3 linked regions of the Homo sapiens genome follow. The protein of the gene in region 3 purifies or fractionates together with the protein of the main gene of each other region. This does not show direct contact. Each region holds a gene or a part of one and is shown on either strand. Other genes may lie near its edges.

Evidence for each region.
Region 1: the proteins of OFD1 (region 3) and CEP20 purify together in Homo sapiens (co-immunoprecipitation; 3 studies listed by BioGRID and IntAct, with this or other methods). This does not show direct contact.
Region 2: the proteins of OFD1 (region 3) and CEP131 purify together in Homo sapiens (affinity purification with mass spectrometry; 2 studies listed by BioGRID and IntAct, with this or other methods). This does not show direct contact.

What each region holds. Positions count from the first base shown.
Region 1 is NC_000016.10:15,885,338-15,893,611, forward strand, and holds the start of CEP20 (centrosomal protein 20), read right to left. Parts: upstream 3,267-8,274; 5' UTR 3,249-3,266; coding exon 3,221-3,248; intron 1-3,220. UniProt on the Homo sapiens protein: Involved in the biogenesis of cilia. Required for the recruitment of PLK1 to centrosomes and S phase progression.
Region 2 is NC_000017.11:81,191,700-81,199,457, forward strand, and holds part of CEP131 (centrosomal protein of 131 kDa), read right to left. Parts: coding exon 7,682-7,758; intron 7,273-7,681; coding exon 7,178-7,272; intron 6,599-7,177; coding exon 6,416-6,598; coding exon of another isoform or gene 6,407-6,415; intron 6,190-6,406; coding exon 6,013-6,189; intron 5,357-6,012; coding exon 5,231-5,356; intron 5,128-5,230; coding exon 5,002-5,127; intron 4,253-5,001; coding exon 4,136-4,252; intron 3,274-4,135; coding exon 3,171-3,273; intron 2,429-3,170; coding exon 2,227-2,428; intron 1,145-2,226; coding exon 1,037-1,144; intron 895-1,036; coding exon 777-894; intron 694-776; coding exon 619-693; intron 1-618. UniProt on the Homo sapiens protein: Component of centriolar satellites contributing to the building of a complex and dynamic network required to regulate cilia/flagellum formation.
Region 3 is NC_000023.11:13,765,584-13,770,451, reverse strand, and holds the end of OFD1 (centriole and centriolar satellite protein OFD1), read right to left. Parts: intron 3,326-4,868; coding exon 3,168-3,325; intron 2,399-3,167; coding exon 2,228-2,398; intron 1,735-2,227; coding exon 1,667-1,734; intron 1,387-1,666; coding exon 1,344-1,386; 3' UTR 1,095-1,343; downstream 1-1,094. UniProt on the Homo sapiens protein: Component of the centrioles controlling mother and daughter centrioles length. Recruits to the centriole IFT88 and centriole distal appendage-specific proteins including CEP164. Involved in the biogenesis of the cilium, a centriole-associated function.

The DNA of each region.
Region 1 (8,274 bases), on a different chromosome or scaffold from region 3:
AAAAACACAAACCTTTGATAATCCACAACGCTTTAGGGAGTGAAAAGGTGTTGGGTTTTTCATTGTTGTTATTTTGAAACAATCTCGCTCTGTCGCCAGGTTGGAGTGCAGTGGCACGATCTCGGCTCACTGCAATCTCCAGGCTCCCTGGTTCAAGCAATTCTCCTGCCTCAGCCTCCCAAATAGCTGGGATTACAGGTGTGCGATACCACGACTGGCTAATTTTTGTATTTTTAGTAGAGACAGGGTTTCACTATGTTGGCCAGGATGGTCTCCATCTCCTGACCTCGTGATCCACCCGCCTCAGCCTCCCAAAGTACTGGGATTACAGGCATGAGCCACTGCGCCCACTGGCCTCGTTGTTTTAAAGACAACTATGAGTTAATTCCTTAGAACAGTAGGATTCTGAAATTTTAAGCCTAGTTAGAAATCTACCACGTGACTGTATCAATGCCATCTTAAGGAGTCAGGGATGTGTATGCAGAATGGAAATCTAACTTACTGATTAGCCAGAGTCACCATGACAAAGCAGTTATGATCATGGGATTTGGCTGTACATACTTAGTATAGATAATGGGGATCTTAGGACTGAATTGGCACCATCCCTTGTAGTGATCTGCAACTTTTATTTTCAAACAGTTCCTACTGGCTAAATGACAACTTCAGAGAATGAACACATCTCATCCACAGAGTCAAGAACAGAGCAAGAGCTCAGTAGGTGTCACCTAGAAGGATTATAATACATTGCTGTACACTACTGGGAAATCAATGTAGTTTAACACTGTTCTGCACCCTGCCAAAGGCACCAAGTAAGTACATCACAATAACAAAAATCCATAAAGAGAGCCCAGGAGCTTATCCAAGTCAGTATGGACATAAGATCTTTCTAAGCTTCAATAAATAACGTCAACAATAACCCTGGATCATATGACTAAAGAGATAGAATCTTCACTGACTTTTGACCTTTCTTTCCCCTCATTTTTAAAGCATCCCTTCAACCTTCTTGCAGATAGGTTAAGTACAGTTATCACCAGATCAGAGTTTGTAACAGGTCCATAAAAGGAAGGTACAGCCTTATTGTACTCTTAGAATCATAACTGAACCCCTATTCTCTAATTCCATCTTTGGAAATTGGATGGAGAGATTTTGTCACTGGCAAGGATCCTGTCCCAATTACTCTGTATTGCACACAGGACAGCCTCAAACTGGACAGAGAAACGAGAATTAGTGACAGTGGAATGAGGAAAGCTAGCATGTCTCATCAGCACCTCAGTGGTGGATTACCAACCCATGCCTCAGTTGCCTTCTCTAAAATAATGAGCTCTACCTCTCAGAGATAGAACCAAGTAAGAAGGAAAAACGTGATCGTGCTTAAAAAAGGTAAATGCCCATAAAATGTAAGGTAACTGGCTGGCAAACAAGTTTTCACCGGGTTTCTTTTGGAGGTCCATAGCATTTTACCTTTCCCTCTATTATGCTTAGAACACTGCGCCATCAAAACTTCTTCGGAAAGGTCTTAACCTCGCTTATATTTCAAGAGTACCTTTTTTATTTTATTTTTTAATTTGTTTTTTTTTTTGAGACAAGGTCTCATTTTGTTGCCCAGGCTGGAGTGCAGTGGCACCACTGTAGCTCATTGTCACCTCTATCTCCTGGGCTCAAGCTATCTTCCTGTTTCAGCCTGTGGGGTAGCTGGAACTACCACAGGCCACTATGCCCGGCTCTTTTTTTTAATTTTTATTTTTTAAATAAAGATGGGGTCTCACCATGTTGGCCAGGCTGGTCTTAAACTTCTGGGCTCAAGCGATCCTCCCAAAGTGTTAGGATTACAGGCATGAGCCACTGTGCTTGGCCCATTCCAAGTGTACCTTTAAATCCTCTGAAAATGTATGCAATATTACATGTGATGTGTATTTCCCTGGGAACAGCATCTGTAGACTCGTGAAGTCTGTTCTTGTGGACAGATGCATGCCTGTTCTGTTTTATGATTGTTCACCAGCCCTGTCCCCAAATACACACTTTTATACACGTCTCCTCCCTAAAATATCTAAGAATTACTAGTTTAAACCCTGGGTTCCCTGCAAAGTGGAACTGGTTTTATTTTTTGGACAGCAATCTTGCTCAGTGATTAAGACCTGGCGCTCCAGTGCGTCACAACTAGGTTCCCATGCTGTGTCTCTTTCCAGTGAAATCACTTTGAGCTATTTCACTTCTCAGTACCTCGTTTCCCAGTCTATGAAATGGGCATAGGGTTGTTACAATCAGGTAACACACAGGCTGAGTTGAGTAGTGCCTGACACATGAGGCTCAATGATAACTATTATTACTATTACTTGTCTGGACATTTGCTTCAAAGTAAACAGCGTACAAATGTCATTAATGACTCAAACATAACTAGCTTAGAGTATCTTTTCCTGAAAAGACAGGAGAATGGCCAGGCCAGCAAACTTTTTGCCTCTAGTTTCTTCTGATGAAAAAGGGGCCAGGCGCTCACACCTGTAATCCCAGCACTTTGAGGGGGCCAAGGCAGGAGGATAGCTTGAGACCAGGAGTTCGACAGTAAGACCCCGTGTCTACAAAAAATACAAAAATTAGCCGGGCGTAGTGAAGAGCCCCTGTATTCCCACCTGCTCTGGAAGCTGAGGTGGGAGGATAGCTGGAGTCCCGGAGTTCGAAGCTGCAGTGAGCTGTGATCGCGCTACTGCACTCCAGCCTGGGCGACAGAGAGACCCTCTCTTTAAAAAAAAAAAAAAAAAGCAAGGAGGGGAGGGCTACTTAACAGGTTGTTGTAAGGACCCAACGAGACAACCAAGCAAATTGTTTAGGGCAGTGCCTAACCCAATAGGGGTTGTGGGAATTGTAGTCATCAGCCCTGAGTGCCAAGCCTGGTCCAAGTCCTCCAGCCCCCGGCAGGGTCCAAGAAGATGAGCCAGGGGCCCAAGATGCAGGCCTGTAGGCCTCTTAGATGCCTGAAGATTACGCAACTCCTCCTTTAGCTCCAAACTGGCTTAAAACTCGCCAGTGGGCAACCTCTTCCCCATAAGAGCTCCCCGCGCACGGGCCAAGACAGCAGCCAGACGCTCCCCGCAGGCCCTCACACCGAAGAATGACGCCTGTAAAAGCCAACCCATGTGTTCCGCGCGCTCTCCTCCCATCCCATCCTTTCCACAAGATGAAGGCCCGACGCTTCCCATGTGGAGGCCTCCCTGCTCGCACTCACCAGCCTTCAACTCTGCCACAGTCGCCATTTTTCAACGGCCGCCAGGGCCGCACCGCGGCCCTGCGCACGCGCAGCTCCGCCCCACTCACCCTGCGGCGTGGTCTGTAGCCAATAGGCGCACAGCTCTCGCCCCGCCCACTTCCGCCCCTCTCAGTTTATGAGCTCTGCGGTTGAGTGGGTAGTGAATGTCGACCAGAGACTCCACCAATCAGCGAGCGCTCTCGGAAGGCCCAGTTGAGTGAGACGGCAGGGAGGGCGGGGACTGAGGCAGTGGAGAGCCCTGTGGGGTGCTGCTGGCACCTTAGTGCTTAACTTTAGCCAGCTGAGTTTTTCATTGTCTCTGCAGCCTCAAGTACCAACTGCTAGTAGTTACCACCTATTAACCCTGCGGTTCTCAAACTTGAGCATGAATCCTCATCACCTCCAAGACTTGTTTAAACGGATTGTTTGCTAGTCCTCCCCATAGAGTTTCTGATTCTGTAAATCTGGGGTGAGGCCCTAGGATTTGCATTTCTATCGAGTTCCCAGGTGGTACTGGTACTGCTGGTCGGTCTGGAGATCACACCTCGAGAACCACTGTATTAAGCACTTACTGTGACGCCTTAGCGCATTATTTCCTTATGATCACGCCGTTTTTACAATGAAGGAAACAGAGTCCTCCATCGCTGAAGAGACTTAACCAAGGTCACCAGCCTGTCCTCTTCCACTCGCACTTACACAGTGCATGTAAGGAGTCCAGGAGCTTTTTATGGAACTAACTAATGAAGGAATAAGCTCCAACATCCCATGGAAGTAAAGGAAAAGGAACAGGGGAATAATGTACCCTAAACTGAGTGTGAGGTTGCATGATTCCAGTTGTAATGCCGGTGAGATCCAAACACTTGGCTAAATAATAAACATCGATTAGACGTACACCTAAGAGTGGCCGGGCGCGGTGGCTCACGCCTGTAATCCCAGCACTTTGGGAGGCCGAGGCGGGCGGATCCCGAGGTCAGGAGATCGAGACCATCCTGGCTAACACGGTGAAACCCTGTCTCTACTAAAAATACAAAAAATTAGCCGGGCGTGCTGGCGGGCGCCTGTACTCCCAGCTACTCGGGAGGCTGAGGCAGGAGAATGGCGTGAACCCGGGAGGTGGAGCTTGCAGTGAGCCGAGATGGCACCACTGCACTCCAGCCTGGGCGACAGAGTGAGACTCCGTCTCAAAAAAAAAAAAAAAAAAGTACACCTAAGAGCTGCCAGGGCACGGTGGTTTACGCCTGGAATCCCAGCACTTTGGGAGACTGAGGTAAGGAGTTCGAGAACAGCCTGGCCAGCCTGGTGAAACCCCCTCTGTACTAAAAAAAAAGTACAAAAATTAGCCGGGCGTGGTAGCAGGAGCCTGTAATCCCAGCTACTTGGGAGGCTGAGGCACAAGAATCGCTTGAACCTGGGAGGCAGAGGTTGCAGTGAGATGAGATCGCGCTACTGCACTCCAACCTGGACGACAGAGCGAGACACCGCCTCAAAAAAAAAAAAAAAAAAAAACCACCTAAGAGCAAGGAAACCTCTTTCCGAGGAACTTCCAGCATACTTTTGGTTCCATGCCTATTGTTTTTAAAACTGATACATTGGCCAGGTGCGGTGGCTCATCCCTGTAATCCCAGCACTTTGGGAGGACGAGGAGGGAGGATTGCTTAAGCTCGGGAGTTTGAGATCAGCCTGGGCAATGCAAGACCCCATCTCTCCAAAATAAATACAAAAAATTAGCCGGGCATGGTGGTGCATGCCTGTAGTCCCAGTTACTCCAGAGGCCGAGGATAGAGGATTGCTTGAGCTCAGGAGTTCTAGACCAAGCTGGGCAACATGAGACGCATTTCTACAAAAAAAAAAAAAAATTAGCCAGATATGATGGTGCATGCCAGCTACTCGAGAGGCTGAGGAGAGAGGATCACTTGAGCCTGGACGGCTGATTGTACCACTGCACTCCACTCTGGGCGACAGAGTGAGTCCCTTTCTCAAAAAAAAAAAAAAAAAAAAAAAAAAAAGAAAAGAAAAAGAGAGAAAGAAAAATTGATATATCACAATTATGGGGAGGGACGTGATATTTTGATACACATATACAATGTGTAATTATCAAGTCAAGGCAATTGGGATAAACATCACCTCAAACATTCTTTGTGTTGGAAGCATTACAAGTATTCTAGCTATTTTGAAATATACAATCAATAATTGTTAACTATTTTTTTTAAAGGGAGGGGGAACAGCCTGGGCAGCATAGGGAGAACCTGTCTTTAAAAACGAGCAAACAAGGCCGGGTGCGGTGGTTCACGCTTGTAATCCCAGCACTTTGGGAGGCCTGAGGCAGGCAGATCACAAGGTCAGGAATTCGAGACCAGCCTGGCCAACACAGTGAAACCCCATCTCTACTAAAAATACAAAAATTAGCCGGGCGTGGTGGCAGAGGCCTGTAATCCCAGCTATTCGGGAGGCTGAGGCAGGAAAATTGCTTGAACCCAGGAGGCAGAGGTTGCAGTGAGCCAGGGGTGCAGAGGTTGCACTCCAGCCTGGGGAACAGAGTAAGACTCCGACTCAAAACAAAACAAAACAAAACAAAAGAGCAAACAGCCAGGCACGGTGGCTCACGCTTGTAATCCCAGCACTTTGGGAGGCCGAGGAGGGCAGATCACCTGAGGTCAGGAGTTTGAGACCAGCCTGGCCGACATGGTGAAACCCCATTTCTACCAAAAATACAAAAATTAGCTGGGCATGGTGGCAGGCATCTGTAATCCCAGCTACTCGGGAGGCTGAGGCAGGAGAATCGTTTGAACCTGGGAGGTGGAGGTTGCAGTGAGCCGAGATCACGCCGCTGTGCTCCAGCCTGGGCGACAAGAGTGAAACTCCGTGTCAAAAAAAACCAAAACGAACAAACAAACAAAAAAACCGAGCAAACAAAACAAAAAATTAGCCTGGCATGTGTCCCTGTAGTCCGAGCTACTCGGGAGGCTGAGGCAGGAGGATTGCTTGAGCCTAGGAGGTGGAGGCTACAGTGAGCCATGACCATAACACTGCATTTCTAGCCTGGTGACAAGGGGAGATGCCTTTTCTTTCCCTTCCTTCCTTCCTTCCTTCCTTCTTTCCTTCCTTCCTTTCCTCCCTCCTCTCTCTCTCCTTCCTTCCTTCCTCCCCGCCCTTTCCCTTTCCTTCCTTCCTTCCCTCCCTCCCTCCCTCTTTCTCTCTTTCTCTTTCTTTCTTTCTTTCTTTTCTTTCTTTCTTTCTCTCTCTCTTTCCTCTTTCTCTCTTACTTTTTCTTGAGACTTAAAAAAAAAGGGGGGCCAGGCAGAGTATCTTGACCTAGAGTCTAGGATAATGCTCTTTAAACTGCTGGTTAACCAAATAGTAGGTTTTGAAATCTATTTATTAGTAGATCCCCATGAGTACATTTTCAGTGAAATGGAATGTAACAAATAGAAAACATAGAAGTATGGTTTTCTAGAACTTTCCTTTCAGGTACACATGTGTGTTCTGGTACCTGTTGTATTTCTTAAAGTGATCAGCCATCAGAAAAGTTTGAAAGTGATTGTAACCTAGAGGAATCTCTTCCTATTCCAAACTGGATTAATTTTTGACTGGATTAATTTTTGATTATGGGACACATATCTGTTCTGTAACCTTGAAAAGGTCCTATCTTGTTTCTCTACTCTGTAAAACCACAGTGACTGAATACCTGGCCAGCATTTCAAGAGATTTTTGGGGATTAACTAAATTCCATAGGTGGTATTTTTAAGTCCCTCAGAAAAAGCACTCCTGTGGTGTTATGATATAGGTATTGATTTTCATCTCCACGATTCCTGGCATCTAACTCCCATTCACCTCATTATAATGTTGAGGCACTTTAGGCCTCAGGAAACAGAATCTCCCTCTCTGATCTTCTCCTGTCCACCTCTGACCTGCCCCAAGCAGGACTCTAATCTGACTGTGGGTCAAAAGACCCTCATTCCAGAAAGGGTTCTGCCTGCTACCCTCAAGGAAGAAATGCTGCACAGAGAGCCCAAGAAAAGTCTGAGCAGACAGGCTTTGCTGGGTTTAGATCAGGCACTTTCTGTCCAATCAGATTTCTTTCTTTTTTTTTTTTTTTTTTGAGACGGAGTCTTGCTCTGTCGCCCAGGCTGGAGTGCAGTGGTACAGTCTCCGTTCACTGCAACCTCTCCCTCCTGGGTTCAAGCGATTCTCCTGTCTCAACCACCCAAGTAGCTGGGATTACAGGTGTGCACCACCATGCCTGGCTAATTTTTTTTTTTTTCCAGACAGAGTTCCGCTCTTGTTGCCCAGGTTGGAGTGCAATGGCACGATCTCGGTTCACCTCAACCTCTGCTTCCCGGGCTCAAGCAATTCTCCTGCCTCAGCCTCCCAAGTAGCTGGGATTACAGGCATGTACAACCACACCTGGCTAATTTTGTATTTTTAGTAGAGATGGGGTTTCTCCATGTTAGTCAGGCTGGTGTCGAACTCCCGACCTCAGGTGATCCGCCCACCTCGGCCTCCCAAAGTGCTGGGATTACAGGCGTGAGCCACCACGTCTGGCCTGTCCAATCACATTTCTACACGGTGTTCAATCACACCTATGTAATAAAGTGTCCCATAAAAACCCAAGAGAACTGGGTTGGGAGAACTTCTGGATAGCAGAACACGTGGAGGTTGTTGAAGGGTGTTGCATTCAGGGAAAGCATGGAAGCTCCACACCCCTTCCCCTATACTTTGCCCTATGTGTCACTTCATCTGTATAAACAAAATTAAGTGTTTCCCTGAATTCTTTGAGCCACTCCAGCAAATTAATGGAACCCAAAATGGGGGTTGTGGAAGCTCCAACTTGAAGGCGGTCCATCAGAAGTTTCAGAGGCCCAAACTTGCGACTGGTGTCTGAAGGAAGGCAGTCTTGGGGACTGAGCTATCACCCTGTGGGAAATGACACTATTTTCAGGTCGAAGATGTCAGATTTAAACTGAAGGACACCCAGCTGGCGTCAGCTGCAGAACTGATTGTTTGCTGGCCAGGCGCAATGGCTGAAGTCTGTA
Region 2 (7,758 bases), on a different chromosome or scaffold from region 3:
CTGGAAGCCTCTGAAAACTCCCAGAGTTTCATCTGTCCAGCCCTGGGCCCCACAGGGCTACGTCGGGAGCATGCTACTGGGCCCAGAGGCATCCACTGCCAAAGCCTGCCTGGCTGCTCGGTGACATCCCAGCCCACCAGGGTGTGAAACCAGGTGACGGGCACGGTCAGCCTGGACTGTAGCCTCGCGGCGGGCATGGGTGGTGAGAATGTGTGTGGGACTGTCACCGTGGCAGAGTCCACCCCCCACAGAAGGCCCCAGAGGCTAAGGGGGGAGCCCCTGTTGTGCGTGTCCCTCTCGGTACATCTGAGTGTCAGTGGGCTGGTCGTGGGGCGCAGGGGTGTAGCAGCCCCTAGCGAGAGGGGCAACGCCTGTTCTCGGACCACAGAGGATGCGCTCCAGGCACCCTTGATCCTTCCAGAGCCCACGCAAAAGATGGGCTGAAAGCAACACACTCAGCGTCAGTTCAGACAACAACCCCAAGCAGCCAGATGTGACTCCCAGAAACGAGCCCCCAGGATGCCACAGCAGCAGCAAAACCCACCTGGGGCAGCCCCCAACTCCTGCCCACGCAGGGCAGCCCCCAACCCCTGCCCACCTGGGTGCCCAGGCCCCCACCTCCTTCCTGGTGCGGCCGGCCTCCCACGCCTGCCTCTCCAGCTCCAGCTGCTGCTTCAGGGTATTCAGCTCCATCTGGGGGGCGGACATAAGAGGCCAGTCAGTCCCACCCCGTGCAGCCCCCTGGCCAGGCCCAGCACAGCCCTCCGGTGGTAGACCTGGTGCCGGCGCTCCTGCTCCTCCCTGCCCTTCTCAAACTCAGCCCTCAGGGCTCGGGTCAGTGCAGAGCTGCTCTCCTCCAGCTGCTGCCTCAGCTCTTCCAGCTCCGCCCGCTGCCTGCGGCCAGGGAGGAGTCAGCAGGTGAGGGGTCATCGAGTAAGGAGTCAGGGATGGGAGAGGTCAGCGGGTGAGGGGGCGGGGGGGAGGGGTCAGCCAGCGAGGGGTCCCTGGGAGAGGGCGTGGTGCCCCCGGGCGGCACCTGGCTGCCTGCTGGCCCAGCCGCTCCCTCTCCTCAGCCACCTCACTGTACAGCCGCTGCCGTTGCTGCTGCAGCGCCCACTGCTCCTGCTCCAGGTGCTGCTGGAACCTGCGGGACGGTCAGGACTGGCTCTCGGGGGCCGGGACGGGCGGTCCCAGGACCCACCCACCGCAGGGGCACGGGCCGACCACAGGCCTGACTCACAGCTGGAGAGCAGCCCTCCGGGGCCCTGCCCCTCCCCCTCGGCAGTCAAGGCCCCTCAAAGCCACCGCCCGGGGGCAGGCAAGGCCACGAGGAACTTGCCCATCAGCCAAGCGCAGCAATTCCCTGAGCTCCAGGCCCTCGTGGCACTTTGGGAAGTGGCTGTGGAGCCGCGTCCAGGCCCCCTTTTCCCTCAGCCCGTGTGCCGGCCTCACCCTGTTCAGCATTGCCCCACGGGCATGGAGGGCGGGAGGCAGGTGCCTCGTGGGGCCTTATCCACCTCCCCTGCCTCCGGCCTGAGGGTGCCAGGTGCCTGGCTCCGTGACCTGAGCAAGCTCGCGCCAGGGCCTCGTCCTGACCCCACCTTCGAGGAGAGACTGGGGGACCAGCCAAGCTGCATCTGGGGAGGACCAGCCACGACAGGCAACAGGGTGGATAGGAGAGGGTGGCTTCCAGGCTGTCCTGGTGGCGCAGACAGTGCAGGAGGGGCTGCCACTGCCCCCTGTGGCCCGCAGATCCTGACCACCACTGGGCACGTCCCCAGCCCCCAGGGCTCAGGACGCAAGAGCAGCAGTCACCCCTCAGACCCCAGGCCAAGGGAGTGAATGAGAGAGACCGTCCCTGGGCCCCAAGGTCAGAGCTGGAGGGGCCTCGAGGCCGCCTATCCACGGGTTGCTGCTCTGGGGCCAGTTGTGAAAGAGTGGATGTCTGGTGGGGGTTCCCAGCCCTGACCCTGGGAAAACACCCGTGCACCCATGCAGAACCTGCAGACCTCGGCGGGCATGAACTGCAGACACAAGCCCGAGGACACTGGCCCGGCTGAGGCTGGGCCCCCAAGGGCCACTCCAGGGCCAAGGGCCCTGCGTCCTCCCTGCATGCTGCACTAAGACCCTCGCCCACCTCTACATGGGAACTCCACTCCAGCCTTCGAGGATTCCGACTCCCCGCCCTGAGGGTCCTGGCCCCACCGGCCTGGGGCCACCACCCACCGCTGCCGAGCACGTTCGCGCTCCTGCTGGCCCAGCGCCTCCTTCTCCCGCTCCAGCTGCTCCCGCAGCTCCTCGGCCTGGCGCAGGCAGCGCTGCGAGGCCCGCTCATCCGACTGCAGCAGCTCCGCCTCGTGCAGGCTCTTGAGCCTCCGCACTTCCTGCTTGTGCCTTGCAATCAGCTTCTGGATCTCGGGCTCCAGACCTGGGGGCGGGGCACCAGCTAGGGCCACGTCCAGCTAGGGTGGGCCCGGGAAGTCCAACCCTGGCACAAGACCAGCCTGTCTCAGGCCCAGAGGGGACCCCGCCCACCCAGGGCCTCCTTGGATCCAACCCGAAGCACAGCTGAGTCTTGACGCCCACGAGGTGGGGAAGAGACCCCCACAGGGCCACGGCGCCTCTCCCAGCCTGTGGGGCTCAGGGCTCCTGACACTCCTGGTGCTACCACTGACGGCTCCCAGGCACCCTGGCAGGTGTCCAGAGCGAGAGGACCAGGCCTCGGGGAGCCCTGCACATCACCCAAGGGTCCGAGGCCCCTTCAGACCACAACACCCACCAGCCTCCTGCCCCATCCGCCTGCCTGCCCCTGCCTCCTCCTGTGGCTCACTCTGCTTCCCGTGGCAGGGCCCACGTGCCACAGTCGTCCACAAACTCCCAATCTCCCCTAGCCCAACCCTGAGGAAGTGAGGCACTGAGCCCCCTCGTTTCAGGCAACTGCCTAGATGCTGGGGGCTGGGCCAGGCTCCTGTGTGGAGCCCACCTGCCCCCCGGGTCACGGCAGAAGCCGCAGCGGAGGCCGTGACGGGGGTGGTTGGGGCATGAGTGTTCACCTCTGCCCAGGAAGGTCTCGGACTACATGAATGCCTGAAGTTATGGCTCTCTCAAAAGAAGCCCTGGCCGCAGCACCCACCCCACACCTGGCCGGCTCATGGGAGGGGAGGGCCCACCTCGGACAGTGACCTCCTTGATCTTCTTGGTTTTCTCACTGATCCACTTCTCCCGGCGGGCTTTCTCGGTGGCGCTCATTAATTCTTTGAGTTTTTTAATCTCCTACGAGCAGAACAGGGCAGGAGGAAACGACACGAAGGACACCCCCGTCCCTTTGCCACCCTGTGGGCACAGTCAGGGCCGGGCTTCCAGGTCCACCAGCACAAGGCCGGCACTCATGGTTGGGTGTGCTGCCCCGAGACAGAGCCACTGCTGCCCTCCCCAGCGCCCGGGGCCAGGCTGGAGGCCCAGGCCCACCCTGCCACACACCTTGGTGGCCTGAGACATGGGAGGGCAGCCATCAGCCTGCAGAGGCCTTGCCCCAGAGAGGGGTGCTGCTGCCTGTCGGGACGGCCCCAGAGCCTGCATTCTTCCATGGGACTGGCAGTCCTCAACCCCGGCTGTCAGCCACAGTCACGTGCAGGGATTTTAAAATGCCAGTGCCAAGCCCCACTCCAGAACCTGGGCTCGGGACCATCACTGCCCAAGCTGGTGGGAAGCATAGCCAGGGAGGCTGAGGCCCCCAGGGAGCTCACACAGCGGGAAGGGGCGGGGAGTCAATGCTCCACCGACACCTGGTCAGTAGAGAGAGCAGGTCCCATGGCCCAAGGACCTGGCAGTGGGGCAGACCAGGCAGAGGCTCCTGGGTCCACGGCTACCGTGCTGTGGCCGGGCAGGGACTGTGCGTCCACATCTGTGACAGCAGGCCCACGGCCCCGCCCCAGAGCCTGGCAGCTAGAGAGGCAGGAGTGGACCAGCTCGGTGCCACGGTGCTCCCCCAGACAGCCCCACCCACCGCTGTGGCCCTGACACACCGAGACAGGAATGAGGACTCCAAGTCCGGTCCTGTTCTGGGGGCTGTGCCAGCTGAGCCTGGCCTGTGAGCCGGGCTTGGGACGCCGTGCAGTAGGGAGCAAAGCCTCACCAGCTCGTGCTGCGCCTGTGCCTGGGCCACACGCTCGGTGCATCTCTGGTCCTCCTGCTTCAGCTCGGCCACCACAGCCTCGCACTTTTCACTCAGGACCTTCTTGTCCTCAATCAGCTGTGTTGGGGACCGGAGGTGAGGTGCTACACCAAGGCCCCAGCCCAGCAGGACCCCTGATGGAGGAGACCCTCCCAGCCTCCGAGGGAGGCTAACAGCAGCCCTCCCCTGGGGCTGCCCCTCCTAGGTTTGTGGATGGACCCTGGGGCCAGTGGGGGGGCACGTGTGCAAACACGGGCCCAGGCCTGCATCCGCCGTCCTGTCCTCAGCTGGGGGACCCGGCGAATGTCAGAGAAGCCCCAGCCCACCCCCTGCAGTGATGTCAGGGTCTTCCTGGGATGAGGGTAGCTCTGCCGAGGCCATCACCCAGCCCTGGAGGAGGCTCACTGTCTGCCAAAGGGTGTCAGGACCACACCAGCCTCACTGCCGGCCCCAGGCCAGACCCCAGGTCAGGACACACCTGTGACAACTATCAAGCAGCCCTGGAGGCCCCTATTCTCACACACCCCAGACCAACTCTAGGTCTCTTCTCTTCAGAACAGGAGCCAACCGGGGCTGCGACTGAGCTGAGGGGCCGGCAGGACACCCCACTACACTCACACGGGGCGGCTCTGGATAAAGACAGGAGTGCCCTCTCCAGGGCATGCATGGCTGGGAATGGCATGGGAAAGGCTTGGAATGCGTCCAGCGGACACCCGTGTGACACCCAACAGAGGAAGAAGCTCCCTGGCAGTGGGAAGCCCCTGGCTCTGGAAGTCTCCATGAGCCACGCGCTGGGTCCGGGCCTCTGCGCTCCCCGGGCCGCTCACCTGGTCAATGAAGGCCAAGTGCCGCTGGATGGTGGCCTCGTAGTGCTCCCTCTGCCGCTGCAGCTGCCGGCTCAGCGCCTTCTCTGTCTCCTTGACCCGCCGGGCCGTGAGGTCTCGCTGCTGCGCCTGCAGGGTGTGGGCAGAGGAGGGAAGCGCTAGGACCGGTGGGCCTGGCCTCAGCAGGTAGGAGGCTAGCAGGGCCCGGGATTAGCAGTGCCAGCAGCGTTACCAGCGCTCTCTGCAGCAGCAGCATGGCCTGCTTCTTCTCCTCCACCTCCAGCTTCAGCCGCATCACAGACGTGCTCACCTCGGACCCCAGCTCCAGGGGCCCCGGCCCCGCCTCCGGCACCCACCCCTGCAGACACAGCCGAGCGTCAGGCGGAAGCGGCAGAGGACGGGGGGCAGCCAAGGACCTGACACGATGCCCCTGCGGCCCTGCCCTCTGGGGACAGAGGGGCTGCTGCACACGGGAGCCCGTGGGAAGCCGGAGGGCAGGTGGCAGGCGGCCCAGCAGAGGTCGTTTTCATTGCTCAGTACAGGAAATGGGGGCCGTGGCCTCAGGAATAAAAAACAAACCATTTAAAAAGTTCTATGCTGCCCAGCTTCCTGCCCTGTGACAATAAAGTTCACGTCACTGCTCCATTTAGCCTGGCCGCTAGTGTTCACCCAGGACAAACCAACCCAGAGGACAGCAGGGCTCCAGAGGGCTGAACTATCCACACATATGGGCTCGTGGAGGCAGCTCGGGGCAGCGGGTAGGTGGGGGCAGTATGGGGAATGCGGGCCCTGCCACCTCCACCCTGAGAGACCCGTGGGGGGTGCTGCATAACTAGGTGGGTACATGGTGAGGGACCACCTCCTGCTGGGGGCCGGGTGGGGGCTGGCGAGAGACCTCCTCCCCCTGGGGGCCAGGTGCGGGCTGGTGAGGGGCCTCCTCCCCCGAGGGCCAGGTGCAGGCTCGTGAGGGGCCTCCTCCCACTGGGGGCCGGGTGCGGGCTGGTGAGGGGCCACCTCCTGCTGGGAGTCCAGCTGGTCCTGCCCAGACTTCTCCATCTCGTCCAAGAAGCTCATGATGCTTTGTAGCTTGGCCTCCGATAGCAGCGTCCCATCCTCAGGAGGTTCGGGGAACGCACTGAGTTTTCCAAATTTCTCCAAGTTGTCAGCTGTCAGAGAGCTGGCGTCATCCTCCTGTGGGACAGGAGCCCAGCATCGGGGGCTGTCAGGGCAGCCTGAGGACTTGGGTTCCCCAAAGGCAGAGGTGGCAGCTGAGGCTGGGCTCTGGGAGGGAGGGTTGTGACTAAAGCCAGGAGGAGCCTGTGGCATCCCCATTTTCCCAACCCCCACAGCCACCGCATGCTCTGTGTGAATGGCGTGGGTGGACAGACTGTGCAGGGCGGGCGCACACCGTGGTCACCTCGCTGGCCCAGGCGTATCTGCCCCTGTGATGGGTCCTGGGGCGGGGCAGCACGTCCGGCTCCTTCTCCAGCAGCTGCAGTGTGTGCAGCAGCTCCTCCAGTGGCCCCCTGGACTTGGCGCTCCCCCTGCTCGGGGCCATCATCTCCAGGTTGTCCCCAGCTGCATCCTGGGCAAGAACGTCCTGCAAAAGAGCAGGGAGACAGATGCAGCAAGGCTGCTGGTAGCTGAGAGCAGCCCCCACATAGGAGGCCAACCGCAGAGCCCCAAAGGCGCCGCGGGAGCTCCCCAGTCCCGACATTCAGCCCCAGGAAGGTGAGGCCAGGGCTCAGACCTTCCCACCCGGTCTCTGCAGCTGCTCAAACCCAGAGCAGCTCCAGCCACCAGGGGACTCCTCCCAGTGCCCCACTCCAGGAAAACAGGAGTGCAGCCACCTGGCCCCACCATTGAGCAGCCTGGGAGCCTTGGCTGTCAGGTCACCCCTCAGAGCCGGAAGCTCCTCTTTTGTGGATGAGGATGCAAGGCCCCCCACCCCAGGACATCTGCAAAAACCCAACTGGATCCACCCCAGCAAAGGCTCCCCAAGAGGCAGCCAGCACCATGCATCAGAGCAAGAAGACACCTCCTGGGTGGCCTCTCTGAGCTTAAGTGGCCCCTAGAGCAGAGGAGGGGCTGGGAGAAGCTCAGCTCAGGACACCCCTGGCACAGACATGGCCCTTAAAGCCAAAAACCATGATGGAGTGAAGGACAGCTGTGCTCAGACCTGCGTCCTGTCCTCTGGAGGCTGCTGTGGTTCTGGGGATGAGTCGGAGGTGGGCAGGCAGCGGTCTCCGGGGCCTGCAGCAGGGAGGCCACCACCTGCACAGCAGAACACAGCACCATTCCACAGGGAGCATCCCGGGGCGGGCAGCAACTCTGGAGGCACCCCCGGGAAGGAGCCAGGCATGGGGGAGGCGGAGGCGACCCCAGAAGCAGAGGAGCCGCTGGGGAGCCACGGCCTTCTGGGTGTGGAGCTGTGGAGGATGAGTGCCACCCCTCCCTTCCGGGCCTTCTACTCTGTAGGGATCCCTACGTCCAGGACCATTTGATTGTCAAGGTCTCGGCACCCTCGTCAGGTCAGCTGGGGGCCAAGGCCCCTAACTCCGAGGACTGGGGCCGCCAACATGGGCAGCAGCACAGGAGGCCGAGAGGAGGTCCACAAGGGCTGCACTTCCTTCCTGGCTGCAGTCCACCCCCCAGAGCAGGGCGGGCGTGGAGCCACTCTCACCAGTATTGTTGGCCTTGAGGGCCTGGTGGGCAGTGCCGCCTGGTGTGGGGGACAGCTCCTGAGCAGGCTGCCGCATT
Region 3 (4,868 bases):
TCAACATGATTATGCATTTGGATTCTCTGCGTCTGACCTTTCTTAGTGAGGCCCAGCCTTTGTCACTATTGACACATGGCCATTCCTAAATGAGGTGCTGACTCTAGATCATCACCCTTCCTTCATGCATGGCAGAACAATCAGGAGGCTCAATTAGTGTGCTATTTGTCACACTACTTAGTATCTTCTGTTTAAGTAGCATTTTGTGCAATTATTTAAGTCACATGAGTCACCAGAGGAAAACTGTAAATAATGGTTAGATAAAATCACAAGCAGCCTCTTAATTACCCATAGTGATCCTGCCACGAAACCTAGGACCCTTTAGAGGGTTCAGTAGAGATTTTTTTCCAGTTCTGCCTTGTAAAACTTGATTTTTTAAGAGATGAAGTCAATTATAGGGAAGGAGCCCATTCATTTAAAAACAAAGGAAATACGCCCATTCATTAAGTATGAGGACCAAAGGTTCCATAATAAAGATGCTATCTCAGTCTGTTCCTGCTGCTATAGCAAAATACCTTAGACTGGGTAACTTACAAAGACCAGAAATGTATTTCTTACAGTTTTAGAGGCTGGGAAGTCGAAGATCAAGGAAGGCACTGGCAGGTTCGATGTCTGGTGAAGGCCCGGTCTCGGCTTCCAAGATGGTGCCTTGTTGCTGTGTTCTCCAGAGGGGATCAATGCAGTGTCTTCAAATGGTGCAAGGGCAAAAGGGCCTAGCTAGTTCCATTGAGCCCTTTTATAAGGTCACTAATCCCACTCTTAGTCACCTGCAAAAGGTGCCACCTCTTAATTCTATCACACGGGGGGGTTTAAATTCCAACATATGAATTTTGGAGGGACACATACATACAAACCACAGACATCAGAAGTAAAGACCAGAGGCAGTATCTTTCTTACTATTTCTAATGCCTAGAAAAATCTGTTTTTATGTTCAGGGACAAAACAGGAGTGTGCTAGGAAAAATGACCTCCTGTTTTACAGGTGGCAGCCCAACTTTGGAGAGGAAAGAACACAGCTTATACTTCCAAAATGTAGGCCTGCAGTTGAGCAGTAAGATAGGTTATACTCATTTATAAATTTAAGACAAAAATAAGGAGGTTAAAAGCCAGTTACTTTTATTATAATGAATGAGAAATACTATGACTGGAGAAGAGGTTTCACGTGACTAGATTATTCTTGGTTCACACACTATGGTATCAAAATTAATTATGGAAAAAAAAACCCACATTGGATTACACACATTTTTATTGAGTTTTGTCTGATGATAGGGAAACATTTACAAAGGAGTAAATGTTACGTAACTTCTCACGGTATGTAAGTTAGAAGCTGGGCAGCAAACATGGTTACCAAGAGTCGTCTAGTTCTTCATGAGAAAAGCCTGTTAAACTAAATTAGGGAAAGATAAAAATTAAAATGTAAAAATTTGTGTCAAGTTTATTTGCTATCTTCATAATGTTCTCAATTCCTTCCCTGGGGGGTTTCTGCCCTAGTTTACAATTTATATCAGGATCAATTTCACAAGTCAAAAAACTCAATTGTTTTTATAGTCACTAATTTTGACTGATTCAATAACTTCTTACAGGCAATCTCAAACATCTGTTTCTCTTGGCTGACAAAATAAGCAATTAACAGTTTGTGTATGAAAGTGTGTAGGGAAAACAGGTACCTTTCGACTTTGTCACTAGATTGCAGCGTGTCCACTAGGGAGCCTTCTTGGACCATCTTTTTTGAGCTCTGATTACATGGAGAGGGTGGAAAATTTTGAAATTAGATATGCATTAATTTCATGAAATACTTTAAGAACCATTTTTGAAATATATATGTAATTTAAAAGTCTAAAAAAGAGGTGACTTTTAAACATGAAATTTAGCAAGCACATCAAAATAAACTATAGGGTATGCATTTAACACCCATAATACTTCAGACTTACATAAAATATTAATGTCAGTATTAATGCATTTGATAGATCTTTTCTTTCTTAATGAGCCACCCCAACTTTTACAAATTAAAATCTCTTAAATCTTTTACCTTAAGCAAAAAAGCTATGAATTTTTGTCAAAAGAATAGTATATTTAAAAGACTCAAGGTTCCATTTGAACTTTGGATTTTCTATACTTTTCACCTTTTTGTCTTCAATGGAGAAGACGGATTCCCGTCCCAAGAAGTTAAGCCACGGAAGCCCTGGATGTCCCCCACCCACAGATTGCCCTGCCCATGGCACTGGCACCTTATCTGCCGACTCCTGGTCTTGCTCCTGCTGGATGATTTTCATGTATTTCTCTAAAGGATTTTCACTGTGAGCAGATTTGTCTTTTATTTCTTGATTACTCATTTCTAATTCATTTTCCATTTCTAATTCCTTTTTTATTTTAATCTTCAGTGATTCTTCAATCATCTTCTATAAAACAGGCACCAAAACAGAAAATACACAAATACATTTGTAAAACTTTTAAGTGTTTTAAAAATGCACTAATATTAATCCCGATCCTTCAAGTACAGCCTGTATGCCAGAGGACTAATTTTTAAAATTGAAGTCATTGCTATCATCAAAGGAAGACAAATATGTCATCTCAATGAAGGAAGGTATTAATTGGCAAGTGTCCTGTGCTTTGGACTTGAATTAACCAAGAGTCCAAGGAACATTCATATGTTAGAGTAATTCAAGCAAGACTTAGCAGGTGTGTTAAGTGGACAGAGTAATCCATCTGCTAGGACTAGAATTGGGACACAGAAGGCAAGAAGAGAAATAGAGGAAGGAGGGAGGGAGTGTGTGCCCCTGGAAGCAACTGTGAACTGGCAGCCACTCCTCCCTTGGGTTCTAGTCCCAGCTAGCTGGCACTGACAGTCTCTTCTTTAAACCCTGTTTTCAAAGCAAAGTTCTGCAGCAAAGCACAGTCTACCTTTTTTACAGGCTTGTTTTAAGGATCAGATGAGAATGTACAAAAATTACCTTCAAAAACTATCCTTTACTACAAAACTCCTAAGCTTCACATTCTGTGCAGCCTTTCCCACTGCTTTTAAGACAAGGAGAGGACAGGGATGCCTTTTAAGGCATCTGCCGCACCTCTGACTTTGTACACCAATTGACTCCCCTCCCTGAGCTCAATGTACTTACGAAAGGTGTACAATGGAGCAACCAGTTCAGAGAATCAAGTCATACTTATTACCCTTTCCTGATACAGTTTTTCTAGTTCTCTTCGTTCCCTTTCTAAAACTTCTTGTAGGTTACTCTGCCTTCTTTCTTCTCTCTGCCTTCGTTCTTTCACTTGCTGTTCCCGTATTTTTTCTTCTTCCTTTTGTTCTTCAATTTGTTTCTGATCTACACCTAATAGGACAGAAAATAAAGAGTAGCTTCCAGTATCAGATTATTCAAATGAATGCAGGACCAGTCTGCAGGAGCCCTTGCCAAGACCCACGGAGACTCTGCTTGGCTTTTAGTTGACTCTGTGACCTGCTTCAAGTCACTATTTCATTTTCACCGACTTCAAGCTCCCGACCCCACTCCTTGAACTGTACCCTACTTCACTTGACTGAGACAAATACGTCACCCTCACCATAACCAACTCCAACTGTCCTCCTTCCATGTCACATGTTCTCATCCTCTTCACAGATCTCCTCCCTCCTTTCCAAGGCAAACCCTGCATTTCTGCCTCTGCCTTTGATTATAATCCCTCCCCTATCTTTAGGACCCAGACTGAGCCATTAATCCCTATTTCTGTACACAGTAGTTTTAGAAGTCTTACTCCCATAAAGATGCTCAAGTCTGTCCTACCCCAACAAAACAGAACAGAAATCACACCACTGCCCTCCCCCCGCCATTCCAGCCATCTCACTGTTCATTCCCCACTTCCTCCAAACTGACGGCAGCCCTTCCTGGGGTTTTAGCCATCACTTGTATATGGATCCTTTCCCTATCTTTTCCTCTACTCCTGGTCTCTCTCCCTAGCCTCGCGTCCACATTTCTGATAGTTCCTTGCCATCCGCATGTGGAAACCCCACAGCACTAGCTTCGTCCCAGGCATGATCATCCCGGTCCTTCGATCATGCTCTTTCTACCCTCTATCCACTCAGCCACCAGTGTTTGCAGGTTCACACTCCCTGTCCTGTGGCTGCAACAGGGGCCCTTCTCACCATCTCCCTGGACTACTGAAACAGCCCAGTCAAGGCTCTTCCTGAAGCCAGTCTCTGCCTTCCAACAACCTGTGGTCATCTGCACCAGGCATTTCCTGAGGGGAAGATGTGGATCTGCTGTGCAGCATCTCCGCTCTGATAAGAGTCCTACGCCATGGTAGTCTGGGCTCTGACAACCTGCCCTTTTCTTCCCAGATTGATTTCCTACATCACCACCAACTTTGTACGAGAAATATTTCATCTGTACCAACCCACTCACTGGGGCCTGGCCGTGGCTCTATCTTCCTTGCTTGACATTCACCTTCACTGTCTCCTCAGCCTGTAGCACTCCCTTGCTCTCACAAAGTCTGAAATGCTATTCAAGACCCAACTGAAATGCCACCTCCTCCTTATTCCTGAAGTGACAACTAACCACTCCAGCATCTCACTTGCAGGATATCTTGTACCTGATCTGTCAAAAACTACATGTACTTGTTTCTTCCACTTCTATTCCTTCCAGGCAAGGTCCATACTTTAATTACTTGTCTGTTCCCTCTGCATCTTGGCACAGGTCCCTATATCTCAAAAGTTTTAATTAGACCCCAATCCCAGAGACAATTATGCTGACCTTTCTCTTCTGGCTCTGACCCATAACCTACATTTTTTTTTTCAACCCAAGCAATGCTAATAAGTAGAAAAATTCATAGGTTCAGCAGAGGACTTTGAACCTTTTTGCTGTGCCTTGTTCTAAAGTGATC